3 separate regions of the Homo sapiens genome follow, and all the other regions are linked to region 3. The links come from fine-mapping of genetic effects on gene expression. A gene starts in region 3. Each other region holds a variant in brackets. All regions are shown on one strand. Distances are between the middles of the regions. Region 1 overlaps WDFY1 (WD repeat and FYVE domain containing 1). Region 2 has its middle 79 kb from the start of SCG2. Region 3 holds the start of WDFY1 (WD repeat and FYVE domain containing 1).

The links.
Region 1: its variant is fine-mapped to the expression of WDFY1 in monocytes after Pam3CSK4 (Quach 2016, PIP 0.95).
Region 2: its variant is fine-mapped to the expression of WDFY1 in nucleus accumbens (GTEx, PIP 0.99).

Annotation. Positions count from the first base shown.
Region 1 is chr2:223,870,192-223,875,408 of GRCh38, reverse strand. WDFY1 (WD repeat and FYVE domain containing 1) reads left to right here. Exons shown (of 12, transcript NM_020830.5): 12 at 1-61. Among named protein-coding and RNA genes, the nearest start is that of AP1S3, 35 kb to the right of the region's middle. The variant G/A (reference allele first, on the strand shown) is at 2,693.
Region 2 is chr2:223,678,700-223,683,949 of GRCh38, reverse strand. No RefSeq gene overlaps it. Among named protein-coding and RNA genes, the nearest start is that of SCG2, 79 kb to the right of the region's middle. The variant T/C (reference allele first, on the strand shown) is at 2,451.
Region 3 is chr2:223,943,362-223,948,611 of GRCh38, reverse strand. WDFY1 (WD repeat and FYVE domain containing 1) reads left to right here and starts at 3,277. Exons shown (of 12, transcript NM_020830.5): 1 at 3,277-3,464. The coding sequence starts at 3,328. LOC124907989 (a long non-coding RNA gene) reads right to left here. Exons shown (of 2, transcript XR_007088100.1): 1 at 4,205-5,250; 2 at 1-771. RefSeq lists a silencer at 3,526-3,705 and enhancers at 4,276-4,335, 4,346-4,465.

The DNA.
Region 1 (5,217 bases), 73 kb after region 3:
CTGTTTTTGTGGGTTTTTTTTTTTGAGAAAATGTACACAATAAAACATTCCTTGCTTGTTACTGTGTTTGCCTAATATCACTTTTGTTGTAGTCAGCCTGGACGTAGGGCAATAACAGTAGCAACCATTTATTCAGCACCCTCTGTGTGCTGGGTGCTTTCACTACATTATCTTACTCAATCCTGGCAACACTTGGGCAAGGCATCATTCCTCCCATTTTACAGATGAGAAAACCAAGAGAATGTGTGTTATTAAGTCTGCCTTTCTGTCTTGAAAACACATGCCTTCTTCCTGCCTCTGGCCTGAATGTGCTAGCATGTCATTTGTGCTGTCTGTAAGGGTGGTGGGTATTACTGTCTCTGCCGCTTGAGGTAGCAGTCAGCATAGTGCAGGATATTTAGGCGCTCTGACTACACAGAGCTATCTAGTGATAACAAGATCAAGCTCTACTTCTCCTCAGCAGCTCAGTTTTGTGAGTGAACACGTGTGGTTCAGACCCAGAAGAACTGATACCTCAACTAAACCAGAGATTGATTTAGAAACCAGAAAGGCAGTGAATAGTATGTTTTTCAAAATAAATATGGCTTTCTTTTCTCTCATCATCAAAATATTATCTTATTATAATAAAAAGAAAAGGAAGCTGGGCGCGGTGGCTCACGTTTGTAATCCCAGCACTTTCGGAGGCTGAGGTGGATCACGAGGTCAGGAGTTCCAGACCAGCCTGGCCAAGATGGTGAAACCCTGTCTCTACTAAAAATACAAAAAATTAGCCAGGCATGGTAGCAGGCGCCTGTAATCCCAGCTACTCAGGAGGCGAGGCAGGAGAATCGCTTGAACTCGGGAGGCGGAGGTTGCAGTGAGCTGAGATCGTGCCACTGCACTCTAGCCTGGGCAACAAGAGCGTGACTCCATCTCAATAAAATAATAATAATAAAAAAGGAAAAGAAAAAGATAGAACCAAAAAGTATAAAACAAGTTGTTTTTAAAATCATCTCATCCCACCACCTGGAGAAAACACCATTAAACTTATCCTGTATATCTTTCCAATGTTTTTATAAATGTCTCCTTACATATGTAACACACACTTAGAGATACATTGTTTTAATGGGACCATACTTGTTTTCCCACTTGATACATTATGGATAGTTTGCCCGTGTCAAAAAGTAGAACTCCATGTTAGTATTTTTTATGGCTGTGTAGTTGCAGTAGACATTTGCTCCTGCCATCATCTGGACACATGTTGGGATCCCACGTCTCCATTTGAGGTCAAGAAAGGCCCTTGTAACTTGCTTTAGCAAATGAAACGTGGGCAGAAGCTCTTTACTGCAGGTGAGCCTCTGGTACCATGACACTTTCTTCCATGCCCCTCATGAAGCATGTGTTGGTGAAGTGTGACGCTAAGCCATTCTACAGATCACAACCGCTCTAGGACTGCAGTGGACTTTGCATGATCGAGAAATAAATCATTGTTTTAGCCCACTGTGGTAGGGGTGTGTGGTGTGTGTGTCAGGGATGGGAGAGTGGCTAGGGATTTGTGTGTGTGTGTCTTACAGCATAATACTAGCATGTATAGCAGTATCCCATTGTCCTATGTGGCTAAGCCATCATGCATTTTACCAATCTCATAAAATTAGATTATATATGTTTAGATTATCATTGTAATTAAAACACTAAATATTTTTCAAATTTTTACATTTAAAAATATACAAGCTCAGCATGCTTATATGTTTATCTTGCCCACTTTTCCAATTATTTTCTGAGGATAAAGTCTTAAAAAGTGGGAATTGCTAGGTCAGAATATGCATGTTATTAAGTGTTTTATTGTTATTGATAATATCCTCACACTATTGCCAAGATTTGAATTTGTGTTTTTGGATAGGCGATAAAAAGGTATCTCTTATTGTCTGAATTTATGGAATGGCAGTTACTTTACAGTGAAAATAATATCAATTTCCCAAGTAGAAAACTGGAAATTCTGAGGCCAAAGTCCAACCTCCTTTTCTAGTAACCCCGTATTGCAAACCAATTATTTACTTCCTATATTCTCTAAAGACCAGTGATTCTTAGTTAGTGTTTTATGATACCGTATTTTCTTTATTTTGAAATTTTTTAAAAAAATTATGCTTTAAGTTCTGGGATACATGTGCAGAACATGCAGGCCTGTTACATAGGTATACACGTGCCATGGTGGTTTGCTGTACCCATCAACCCATCATCTACATGAGTTATTTCTCCTAATGCTATCCCTTCCCTAGCCCCCCACTCCCCGACAGGCCCCAGTGTGTGATGTTCCCCTCCCTGTGTCCATGTGTTCTCATTGTTCAACTCCCACTTATGAGTGAGAACATGCAGTGTTTAGTTTGCTGTTCCTGCATTAGTTTGCTGAGAATGATGGTTTCTAGCTTCATCCATGTCCCTGCAAAGGACATGAACTCATCCTTTTTTATGGTTGCATAGTATTCCATTGTGTATATATCCCACATTTTCTTTATTCAGTCTACCATTGATGAGCATTTGGGTTGGTTCCAAGTCTTTGCTACTGTGAACAGTGCTGCAATAAACATACGTGTGCATGTGTCTTAATTCTTTCTAGAAAGTACATTTTATTTTTTATTTTTTGAGATGAAGTCTGACTGTCACCCAGGCTGGAGAGCAGTGGCGTGATCTCAGCTCACTTCAAATTCTGCCTCCC[G/A]GGTTTAAGTGATTCTCCTACCTCAGCCTCCTGAGTAGCTGGGACTACAGGCGCATGCCACCATGCCTGGCTAATTTTTATATTTTTAGTAGAGACAAAGTTTCACCATGTTGGCCAGGCTGGTCTTGTGATCTAACCTCAAGTGATCTGCCCGCCTTGGCCTCCCAAAGTGCTGGGATTACAGGCATGAGCCACCACCCCGGCCTAATTTTTATCCAAAATAGATTAACATTAATGCACAGCAAGGAATGGAGGGGTGTCCCAAAATTGAGCTAATAAATTTGAAAGAACTTGGGACTCAGTCTTCTAGAGTATGGCTGTTAAACCTATGATGCTCTTAAAGGACTTTGTTACTTAAATCCTCCTAATAGGGATATTATCTCTTCCTATAATATTGAGAATAGCCAATAGCTTTGCAGACTCTACCATGAAAATCAAACACAACTAATAAAAGTTACAAAACAATCACATGATTTTAGTATTTCAAAACTCCAGGTATCATTCATTTATTAAATAAATGTGATATTGAGTTTTGGCAAGATAATAGCAAACAACCAGATTTTTTAATAGCTGTAGATTTCTTTGGTTAATTCTGTGATATTAAGTTTTGCAGGCTTGCATAATTTGTTGAATTCAAAATACCTTAACTCGACCAGGCACGGTGCTTCACGCCTGTAATCCCAGCACTTTGGAAGGCCGAGGTGGGCAGATCACCTGAGGTCAGGAGTTCAAGACCAGCCTGGCCAACATGTTGAAACCCCGTCTCTGCAAAAATACAAAAATTAGCTGGGCATGATGACGGGTGCCTGCAATCCCAGCTACTCAGAAGGCTGAGGCGGGAGAATCACTTGAACCCCGGAAGCGGAGGTTGCAGTAAGCTGAGATTGTGCCACTGCACTTCAGCCGGGGTGACAGTGCGACACTCGGTCTCAAAGCAAACAAACCTTAACTCAGAGAAAGAAAAATTGTTTTTGAACAACTTCACATTTATTTAAATGATTCTTCTAGATCCACCACATGCTTAAACTCTTGTGAGACTCGACCCATGCATGATAATGGCCTGTAACCTGCATTTCTGCTCTAGCTTGGAAGCCTCTGGAAGACAGGGGCTGGTCTTATCCTCAGTGTCCATCACACAAGACCTGCTCAGTCCCTGATCTTTAGACCTTTGATTTAGATCTTGTTTTCATTTATTCCACAGATTGGAGAGCAAAACTTGATATGTTTCTTCTCATGCTTTGAAAATGCCACTTTAGGCTGAATGTGTGGAAAGTTCTGTTGTGCAATTTTCCTCAAGCTGTTGGGGATAGAGGAACTCATTAAAGAGCAACTTTTATAATTAGGAACATCTGGTTGAATGAACCCACTGTGGTGTTAGGAAGAAAGGGAGGGGAGAAAGAAAACATATGGTCAGGCAGAAATTTGTTCATTTCTGGAGTTACCTGTATAAAAACAATTCTTTGCTCAGGTGATTTGAGGACTTTATTTCTAAGTTATTCATGTACTTTATTTTTTATTTATTTATTTATTTTTGAGACAGAGTCTCACCCTTTTGCTCAGGCTGGAATGCAATGGCGCAATCTTGGCTCACTGCAGTCTCCACCTCCTGGGGTCAAACGATTCTCTAGCCTCAGCCTCCTGAGTAGCTGGGATTACGGGCATGTGCCACCACATCTGGCTAGTTTTTATATTTTTAGTAGAGATAGGGTTTCACCATACTTGCCAAGCTGGTCTTGAAATCCTGACCTCAAGTAATCCACCCGTCTCAGCCTCCCAAAGCGCTAGGATTACAGGCGTGAGCCACCACGCTTGGCCTATTCATGTACTTTCATATTTCTTGTATTGTCAGGTATATATTATCTGTTATCTGAGGGAGTCATATCAGCCGTTATCTGTCCAACGAATATCAAGTTGCAACTGTGCGCCGACAACATAGGCGAGCTTGCCAACATCAACCTCGGCACAGGCCTAAGGGCACTACCTTCCAATAGACCCTCAGAACAGCCGCTTCTCACCATTCTGCTGCTACTACCATGGGGCAGCCCACACTCATCTATTCCGGCAGCCCCCTGGATTAGTCAGGGTTCTTTAGAGGGACAGAACTAATAGGATCGATAAATATATGAAGGGGAGTTGACTCACACGATCACAAGGCGAAGTCCCATCATGGGCCGTAATAGGTCTGCAAGCTGAGGAGCCAGGAAGCCAGTCCAAGTCCCAACCTCAGAAGTAGGGAAGCCGACAGAGCAGCCTTCAGTCTGTTGCTGCAGGCCCGAGAGCCCTGGCAAATCACTGGTGTAAGTCCAAGAGTTCAAAAGCTGAAGAACTTGGAGTCTGATGTTCGAGGGCAGGAGGCATCTGGCACGGGAGAAAGACAGAGGCCAGAAGATTCAGGCAGTCTAGGCCTTTCATGTTCCTCTGCCCGCTTTTATTCTAGCCATGCTGGCAGCTGATTAGATGGTGCCCACCCAGACTGAGGGTGGGTCTGCCTCTCCCAGTCCACTGACTCAAAGTTACCCTCCTTT
Region 2 (5,250 bases), 260 kb after region 3:
ACCTCCCAGGCTCAAGTGATCCTCCTACCTCAGCCTCCCATGTAGCTGGGACTGCAGGTGTGTGCCACCATGCCACCTATTTTTTATTTTTTTATTTTTTAGTAGAGTCAAGACCTCACTATGCTGCCCTGGCTGGTCCTGAACTCCCGGGTTCAAGCGATCCTCTCACTTGGCTTCCAAAAGTTCTGTAATTACGGACGTGAGCTACTGTGCCTGGCCTCACCCCAAATCTTATCATTCAAAGACAACTGTTAATATTTTTATGAAAATCCTTTAAGACTTTTCTCCACATACATATAAATATATAACATATAACTATAAATAATAATATAAATGTTAGAATATAAATATAATTGTAAGACTATAATGAATATATAATTTACAGTAATATATTTATAAATACACAATTATACTATACATACATATCTAATATCAATAAAAATATATATTACAAACTTAATATCAGATTGTATATAATTTTGTACCTACTTTTCTTGGCTAACAATATACTATGACCACACCTCTATATCAATAAATATGAGTAATATCTTTATTCTAACTGGATGCTAAGAATTTCACTGTATAGGTAAAACTATATATCCCTATTCCAATTATTTAACATGTAGGATTTTTCTAGTATTTTTCTATCATTTACTTTGACAAATATTTTTACACATTTACCTTTGCTAATACACCCAAGTATTTCCTTAGCATGAAATTATAGAACTATAAGATCAAAATGTATGAGTGTTTGGCTAAATTGTATGGCTAAATATATGGCTAAATTGGCCTTCAGACAACTATATCAGTGTAAACTCTCAATTGCATTGCATGAGAATACATCCAGCCCCATGTACCAGCCTACAGGGTCACTAGTATTTGTAATCTTGGTCAATCTGGTAAGCAAAAAACATGTCACTTTAATTTGTCCTTTTATTATAAGTCAAGATGAGCATTTTAATGTGTTTATATCATTCATATTTCCTCTTTTATGAACTTTATATTAATATCTTCAGCCCATTTTCATTTCAGATGTTACCTTTTTCTCTTTGATTTGGTCTGGCTGTGTCCCCACCCAAATCTCACATTCAACTGTAATAATCCCCATGTGTCAATCGTGGGGCAAGGTGGAGATGGAGATAATTGAATCATGGGGGCGGTTTCCCCCATACTGTTCTCATGGTAGTGAATAACTCTTATAAGATCTGATGATTTTATAAATGGGAGTTCCCCATACAAGATCTCTTGCCTGCTGCTATGTAAGCCATGACTTTCTTCTCCTTTGCCTTCCACCACGATTGTGAGGCCTCCCCAGACATGTGGAACTGTGAGCCTATTAAACCTCTTTCCTTCATAAATTACCCAGGCTCAGGTATGTCTTTATTCGCACATGAGAACTGACTAATACATTCTTATTGGCTTATAAATGTGCTTTATATATTGAAGACATTAACACTACATTAAGGTCAATTACACAATTTGTTTCCCACCATTTAAAAAATATTTTACTTTTAAAATGACTTCTGCCTTTCTGAAGCTATGTTTTTCCAGGGACAAACTCCAGTACATTTTTTACAGCAGCTTTATTGGGTTATAATTTACATTCCATTTCTGTGGTTTTTGGTATATTCACAGAGTTGTGCAGCCATTACTATCTAATTTTAGAACTTTTTCATCACACCAAATGAAACTCCTCTGCTTAGCAGAGGAGAGAAACTCTGTTTCTCCTTCCATGTACCCTCTGGAAGCATTAATCTACTTTCTGTCTTTATGGATTTGCCTATTCTGGACATTTTATATAAAAGGAATCCTACAAAATGTGGCCTTTTGTGACTGGCATCTTTCACTTCGCATAATGTTTTCAAGTTTCACCCATGTTGCAACATGTATAAGTACTTTAGTCTTTTTTATTGTCAAATAATATTCTACAGTATAGATGTATATTTTGTTTATGCATTCATCAGTAGATGGATGTGTGGGCTTTTCTACCTTATGGCTATTGTGAATAATGCTGTTCTGAATGTTTTCTTTTCTTTTTTTCTTTTTCTTTTTTTTTTTTTTTGAGACAAAGTCTTGCTCTGTTGCCTAGGCTGGAGTACCAGTGGCACAATCTTGGCTCACTGCAGCCTCCAACTCCCAGGTTCAAGCAGTTCTCCTGCCTCAGCCTCCCAAGTAGCTGGGATTACAGGTGCACATCACCACGCCTGGCTAATTTTTTGTACTTTTAGTAGAGATGGGGTTTTGCCATGTTGGCCAGGCTGGTCTTGAACTCCTGACCTCAGGTGATCCACCTGCCTCAGCCTCCCAAAGTGATGGGATTACAGGCATGATCCACCATGCCTGGCCTACTATGAATGTTTTAATAAAGGTTTTTGTTTGAACATACGATTTCAGTTCTCTTAGGTATATATCTAGGAGCAGAATTGCTGGATCATGTGGTAACTTTGTTT[T/C]AACATTTTGAGAATGTTCAAACTGTTTTCCAAAGTGGCTGCGCTATTTTACAATTCCACCAGCGTTGATAAGGGCTCCAATTTCTCTACATTTTTGCTAACACCTGTTATTAGTTGGCTTTTTAATTTTAGCTATGCCAGTGGGTGTGAATTGGTATTTCATTGTGGTTTTTATTTGCATTTCCCTGATGACTAATAAGGCTGAACATATTTTTGGGAGCACATATTGACCATCGGTACACCTTATTTGGATTAATGTCTATTCAAGCCCTTTGCCCATTTCTAAGTGGGTTATTTGTCTTTTTATTGTCAAGTTTTAAAAGTTCTTTATATATTCTGGACACCAGACTTATCAAACTTATAATTTGCAAATGTTTTCTTCCATGTTTTAGTTGTGTTTTTCACTTTCTTCATGGTACCTTTTGAAGCACAAAGTTTGTCATTTTGGTAAGGTCCAATTTTTCTTTTTTCCACATGTGCTTTTGGCTTTTGGTGTCATATCTAAGAGGCCATTGTATAACTCAAGTTCACAAAGATTCACTGCGATTTTCTCCTCCCTGCCAAACATTTTTTTTTTTTTTTTTTGAGATAGGGTCTTGCCCTGCTGCTTAGGTTGGAGTGCAATGATACAAACACAGCTCTCTGCAGCCTAGAACTCCTGGGCTCGAGCGATCCTCCCACCTCAGCCTCCTAAGTAGCTGGGATCACAGGCACCCACCACTACGCCCAGAGCTAATTTTTGTATTTTTTTTGGAGAGACAGGATCTTGCCATGTTGCCCAGGCTGATCTTGAATTCCTGGGCTCAAGTCATCCTCTTGACTTGGCCTCCCAAGGTGCTGAGATTGAAGGCATGAGCCACCATGCTCAGTCTATTTTCTCTTTTTTTGAGGTAACTTCAGTACTTTTGTAAAATGTTTTCTCTTTGTCATCACATTGACAAATTCTCCTCATCCCAGAATTGTATAAATTTTCTCATATTAAAATGTCTATATATATATATATATATATATATATATATAATTATTTTTTTTTTGACAGAGTCTCACTCTGTCACCCAGGCTGGAGTGCAGTGGCATGATCTTGGCTCACTGCAACCTCCGACTTCCCGGTTCAAGCGATTCTCCTGCCTCAGCCTCCCGAGTAGCTGGGATTACAGGCATGTGCCACCATGCCCAGCTAATTTTTGTATTTTTAGTAGAGACAGGATTTCACCATGTTAGCTAGGATGATCTCAATCTCCTGACCTCGTGATCTGCACTCCTCGGCCTCCTAAAGTGCTGGGATTACAGGCGTGAGCCACCGCGCCCGGCCTATATATCTTTCTAGTAATTTTTGCTTGTGTTTTTTACAGTAACATTTTAATCCCTCTGGGATTTATTTGGGTATGAGAATTGGAGCAGAACACACTTTCCCTATTTTATACTTCAGAGCACTTTCACATAAATTATTTCATACTTGTAATGTAGATGAGAGAGATACATAATTTTTTACATTTTATACATATGAACACAATAATTCAGAGATTTCAAATGATTTGCCTGTGGTAACACATTTAGGTACTGTAAGTATCACACCTGGAATCCAGGTCTTTGTTCATCTGCCTGGAGTCTCTATGACCCATCATCTTTCTCTTCAATGGCGTTAGTTATGGACAGCTCTCTTCTTTGTGGTACTTAACATTACTCACTGGAAGGGAATTTGATCATCTAGTTTGTTAAATCATTATTAAATGCAGCTTATTATATTATTGCAGAGAATTTCAACTTTTTTATGTCCCTAGTTTGTCACAGTGTGGCCTCAGGCAGGTTATTTCATCTCTAATAACTATGACAATAATAGCTAACGTATGTTGACACTGTCCATGTGCCAGGGGCCATGTTCAGCTTTTCACATGGGTTATCTCATTTAATCTTTACACACAAAAAACCCTATGACCAGATGCTATCATGGAAAGGTGTAGTATATAAGCCTAGCAGCCATTTGAACACTTTTGGGTTTCTGACCAATCTTTTCACTTTCAAACTTATTGAAAACCCAAAGAGTTTTTTGTTTGTTTGTTTTGTTTTTTGTTTTGTTTTGTTTTTGAGATGGAGTCTCACTCTGTCACCCAGGCTAGAGTGCAATGGTGCAATCTGGGCTCACTGCAACCTCTGCCTCCCAGGTTCAAGCAATTCTCCTGCCTCAGCCTCCCGAGTAGCTGGGATTATAGGTGCACACCAACATGCCCAGATAATTTTTGTATTTTTAGTAGGGATGAGGTTTTACCATGTAGGCTAGGATGGTCTCGAACTCCTTACCTCAGGTGATCCACCCACTTCGGCCTCTCAAAGTGTTGGGATTACAGGCATGAACCACCACGCCTGGCCTCATTTAATCTTAACACACAAAAAAACCCTATGACTAGTTGCTATCATGGAAAGACATAGTATATAAGCCTAGTGGCCATTAGAAAACTTTTGGGTTTCTGACCAATCTTTACACTTTAAAACTTATTGAAAAACCAAAGAGTTTTTTCTTTATGATTTATATCTATCGCTACCATATTGCAAATGAAAATTAAGAACACTTTATTTGTTGTTTCCTTTAGAAGAACAATAATGAACCCATTATTTGTCAACATAAAAACATTTTTAAAGTGAAAAATAGCTGTATTTTCCCAAAGAGTAGTTTTTTTTTTTTCAGTTAGCAGTGTCTCTTTAATAATTGGCTTAACAGATGACTGCAGGATTCTCATGTTTTCTTCTACATTTGTGGCAATCTCTTACATCATATAACCTCTGGAAAACTCCAAATATAGTG
Region 3 (5,250 bases):
ACACCTTGCTTCTATTCTTGCCTTTTAAAATTGAAGGCAGATTAGCCCAGGCGCAGTGGCTCATGCCTATAATAATCCCAGCACTTTGGGAGGCCAAAGTGGGTGGATCACCTGGGGTTGGGAGTTCGAAACCAGCTTGGCCAACATGGTGACACCCTCTCTACTAAAAGTACAAAAATTAGCTGGGTGTGGTGGCACGTGCCTGTAGTCCCAGCTACTTGAGAAGCTGAGGCACGAGAATCACTTGAACCCAGGAGGTGGAGGTTGCAGTGAGCCAGGATCGCACCACTGCACTCCAGCCTGGACGACAGAGTGAGACTTCGTCTCGAAAAATAAATGAATACAAATTTAAAAACTTGAAGGCAGATTAAACCAGCCTTCTGTTCGAAACTCTCCAATGGCTTCCTATCTCATTTGAAGTAAAAACCAAAGCCCTTATCAATGGTCTCTGGGCTCAACATGGTCTGTCTGGTGACCTGTCTGTGCTGTTTTTCTCTGAGCACTCCCTCACTCACTCTGCTCCAGCCTCACGGGGTGCCTGGCTGTCTCTACAAAACCCCTGGCATGTGCTCACCTCAATGCCTTAACACGTGCTCTTTTCTTTTCCAGAAAAGTATTTGGCCCACATTTCCACATGGCTTACTCCCTCCTCTCCTTCTTGGCTCAAAATGTAACTTTACAATGAGGCTTTTACTTGTCTCAGGTTGCATTCTCCAGCAGCAGATACGGTGATAGAGGTTGGCTCAGAGGGTGTTTATTAGGAATCAATGCCTGTGAAGGGAGGGGGAGGTACCAGGATTAGGCAGGAGAAGTCAGCTGCAGTACACGCCTTACAAAGCCTTGTCCAATCTAGGAGAGAGTTCTAGAGCAAGTGTTGCTCATCGGTCTGTCTTGATGGTCAGGCCTTTATCCTCCTATCTTGTTCAGTTACTGAATGTGGGCTTCCCTGTGAAGGGAACAACTGAGACCCAGTGGTTCTCAGCAGCTGGGGCAGTCCCTGAAGGAGCTGAAGGCTAGAGGCTCTCTGCTGACCACTGTTCTTCCCTGAAAGCAGATCTGTGCAGTGTATTCCTGAATCTATCACACCATCTATTTAAAATCGCAACATCCCCTAGAGTCCCTATCACCCTTCCCTGCTTTATTTTCTCCATAGCATTTAATAGCATTGAACATCTTCTAATATATTATATAATTTAGTTTACTATCTGTTTCCTTCACTGGGATGTAAGTTCTAACAGCAGAGGGATTTTTGTCTCTCTTGAGCACTGCTGCATTTAGAATGGCACCTGGCTCACAGCAGGCACTTGGGAGATGTTGGTTGATTAAACAAAGTTGTTCAGTAGCGTGTCTAGTCATTACACTGTACAGCCTCACAAAAACCATGTCTTATTAATCTCATCAGCAACAGCATATAGTAAGTGTGCGATATATGTCTGTTGAATATAGGAATAAATAAATTCATGAATGTTTGTTAATAACTTCATCATGAGAAAGTATTAGTACAATGGTGGCTCCTGCCCGTAATCCCAGCATTTTGGGAGGCTGAGGTGGGCAGATGATTTGAGGGCAGAAGTTTGAGACCAGCCTGGTCAACATGGTGAAACCCTGTCTCTAGTAAAAATACAAAATTAGCCAGGCATGGTGGTAGGTGCTTGTAATCCCAGCTACTCGGGAAGCTGAGACAGGTGAATCCCTTTAACCTGGGAGGCGGAGGTTGCCGTAAACCGAGATCGCACCACTGCACTCCAGCCTGGGTGACGGAGTGAGTTCGTCTCAAAAAACTAAAACAAAACAAAACAAAAACAAAAAGAAAGTTCTAGTAAATCACTGTACATAGAAGTACCATCTGATTCACATCCATAATTTAAAGTTTTTATTAGCTACCTTAAAAAAATAAGCAGGTCATATTAATTTTAATAGTATCTAACTCAATATATCCAAAATAGTATCATTTCAACATGTAATCATTGTAACAATTATTGATGAACTATATTACATCTTTTTTGTTTTGTGCTAAGTCTATAAAATCTTGTAGTATTTTGCACTTGTACTACATCTCAGTTTGGACAAGCCACATTTCAAGTGCTCTATAGTCATGTGGATAGTACGGTTCTAATGCAATTCTGCAATTCAGGTGTCAGAATAATATAGTGGGGCAGAAGTTTGGAGTCATTGACTTCCTGAGTCCAAATTTTGGCTCTTGAACTTACTGGTTGTCAATGACCTCTAGCCAAAAACCACCAGGAACAAATGGGGTTGATTGCTTGTTGGAGGGAGAAGACACACCATTGGGAATGGTGAGGTGTCTGGGTAAAGGGATGTTCGGACAGTTTTATTATAGGATTTGTGTTTGTGTTAGGTGACCTGGGAGAGCTTAAGGAAGAGAGGCTCTCCTGTGGACTGGATGTTGTCAGGAAATGCGTATAATTCTAAGGTTGCATATCTTAATAAATCTTATCTAAATGGAGGAAGACTAGATAGCGGTTAACATTATAATTAATAAAGAAATAAGAGTCACTCATATTAGCCAGGATAGGGGGATGTTTGGTAATTTCTGTGGCTTGTACATCGCTCATATTTTGGCCGTGTTTAGATGTGATTATGGAGTGGCCTCGTCTGATGTTTATGTTCCACAGGAAGCAAACACTTCCTAGCAACACCAAAGCTCAGCTGATAGTACCAGGCAGCTCCTGGAGATCAAGGGCTGCTTTTCTCCCTCTCATAGCTGTGCAACCTTAAGGTAGTGATCAAACTTCTCTGGTTGTTTTCTCATCTCTAAAATGGGAATACAAGAGCATCTATTTCATCTCTTAAAATTATCAGTATTAAATGAGATGCAAAGACACTGAGTTAATGCCTGGTATATGGTCACCACTCAGTGCTATCTATTGTAGTTCAAAGATTCTAAGATGCACTATATTTTTTCACATTTTAACATTTCTGAAAGTGTGTGCCTTTCAAACAATGGCTTCTTCAAATGGATGAAATGTAGTATTGTAATTTCTGAAATCTCTGGTTTGGGGGACAATTCCTTGTCCCCTCCAGGTGCTCAATTTATTCCTGGGTGAATGGCTTTACTTTTAAACCTTCCTTACTTTCCCCATTTCTCCGCAGGCGCCCCGTGGCATCCTCTCCCAGCCACAGACTTTCAGCTTGCGCGGCATCCCCAGGCAATACGGGCGGTGCGGCGGCAGCACTCGGGGGCTTACGGCGGCGCGGCGCCCAAGAGGCCCCAGCAGCCGAAGGGAAACCGGCGCGTCCCCCGCCCGCCCAGGCGTCAGCTGATGGGCTGCCTGCCGAGGAGGCCGCAGCAGTCGCCGCGCGAACATGGCGGCCGAAATCCACTCCAGGCCGCAGAGCAGCCGCCCGGTGCTGCTGAGCAAGATCGAGGGGCACCAGGACGCCGTCACGGCCGCGCTGCTCATCCCCAAGGAGGACGGCGTGATCACGGCCAGCGAGGACAGGTAGGGCCCGGGCGCAGCCGGGGCGGCCCGAACTCCGCGACGACGGGGTGTGGGGGCGGTGGGGTCCGCGGCCCCGGTCCTTCCTGCGTGAGGGGGCTCCCCCGGCAGCACGGCCCCACCCCCACTCTGCGCCCCTTAGCTCCGCCGGGTTCCCGGTTCCCTCCCGCCGGTCCTCCAGCCTCGACTTGCACCTTTCCAGCCTGGGACCCCGGTCTCGCCGCGCCCCTCCAGCCCGGATCCCCTGTCCCACCGCGCCCCTCCAGCCCGGGAACTCCGTCTCACCGCGCCGCCCAAGCCCGGGACCCTTGTTCCAACGTGTCTTTCCAGCCCAGGACCCCTGTTCCAGTGCGCCCTACCGCGCCCCTCCCAGCCCACCTCGCCCCTCCTGCTCAGGACCCCTGTTCCAATGCTCCCCAACGCGCCCCTCCAGTCCGGGACCCTTGTCCCACTGCGCCCGTCCATCCCGGGAGCTCCGTCCCACCGCGCCCCTCTAGCCCGGATCTTCTGTCCCACTGCGCCCCTCCAGCCCGGGAACTCTGTCCCACCGCGCCACTCAAGCCCGGGACCCCGGTTCCAGTGCGCCCCAACGCACCTCTCCAGCCCAGGACCTCTGTCTCACCGCGCCCCTCCAGCGCGGGAACTCTGTCTCACCGCGCTGCTCAAGCCGGGGACCCCTGTTCCAGTGCGCACCAACGCGCCCCTCCCAGCCCACCGCGCTCCTCCAACCAGGGAACCCCGACCTGCGGTGTCGCACTAGCCTGGGACCTTCGTCCCGGTCTCTCTCCCTGGCGGGGTTTAGCCTGGTACTCGGAAGGTGTTTCTTGGCCCTCCCGGGTCAGTTCCAAATCGTCTCCTCTGGAAGCGTGGAGGACCGGCGGCTGGTCACTGCGGACCCTGGTGCCCGGGGCTTGCTTCTTTGCGAGGAACTCCAGCCGCCTTCGCTCTCTTCCTCCCCCTGTACTCAGGGATTTCACGCCACGCCAGGCCTCTAGATCAGTTATTTTTGCCACGGCTGCTAGAATCACCTGAACTCTTATTTACTAAATAGGTTTTTGTGAAAGTGACTCATTTTTAAAAATATTTGGATGCATTTATTTTAAAAGGAAATCTTATTTATTAGGAAAACTAACATTACTCACCAGACAGAGTAAACTAATAACTAAAACATGTTAATTGGCATGCACACAGAGTCCTCTCTTGCACTGTGACATCTTGCATTGGACGCCCACCATGCTTTTGGGAAACACTGATTGGGTCCAGTTTTCTCATTTCTCCTAAGAGGAAGCCGAGGCTGGTGGAGGTGTAGCTTGCTGCTAAGTTACAGAGATACTGGTGAAGCCGGAAATGCAATCCAGAACTCCCACCAGCTCTGGGCCTGAGTGATTGGATTGGAACAGTATTTATGATTCGACTTTAAACTTTAGCGTCTTTCAAATCCTAAAGGTTTACAATGTCAGTAGCTTTCCGGTGGGAATTTGAAGGAAATGACTGATGTTTATTGAATGAAACTGTGTTTCCTTGATGCAATGAGCCGTCTTAAATAGGGATAGTCCACAAGTCCAAAAGCTTTCTGGAGGATGGAAGGTACTGCTATTCTCTTAAAGCTGAAGGCGTGGTCTCTAGCCTTTTGTAATTATACCTTTTGAAGTGACATTGACCCTATCCTGAATGGGAAGAAAAAGCCTGAAGCCCCCAACTCCTGTTGGTCCTTTGGATTTTGCTTTTGAGTGAGCTTGTGCCTTTTTCCTCAATTAGATAATGAGCTGATTGTGAGCAGGCAGTGGCC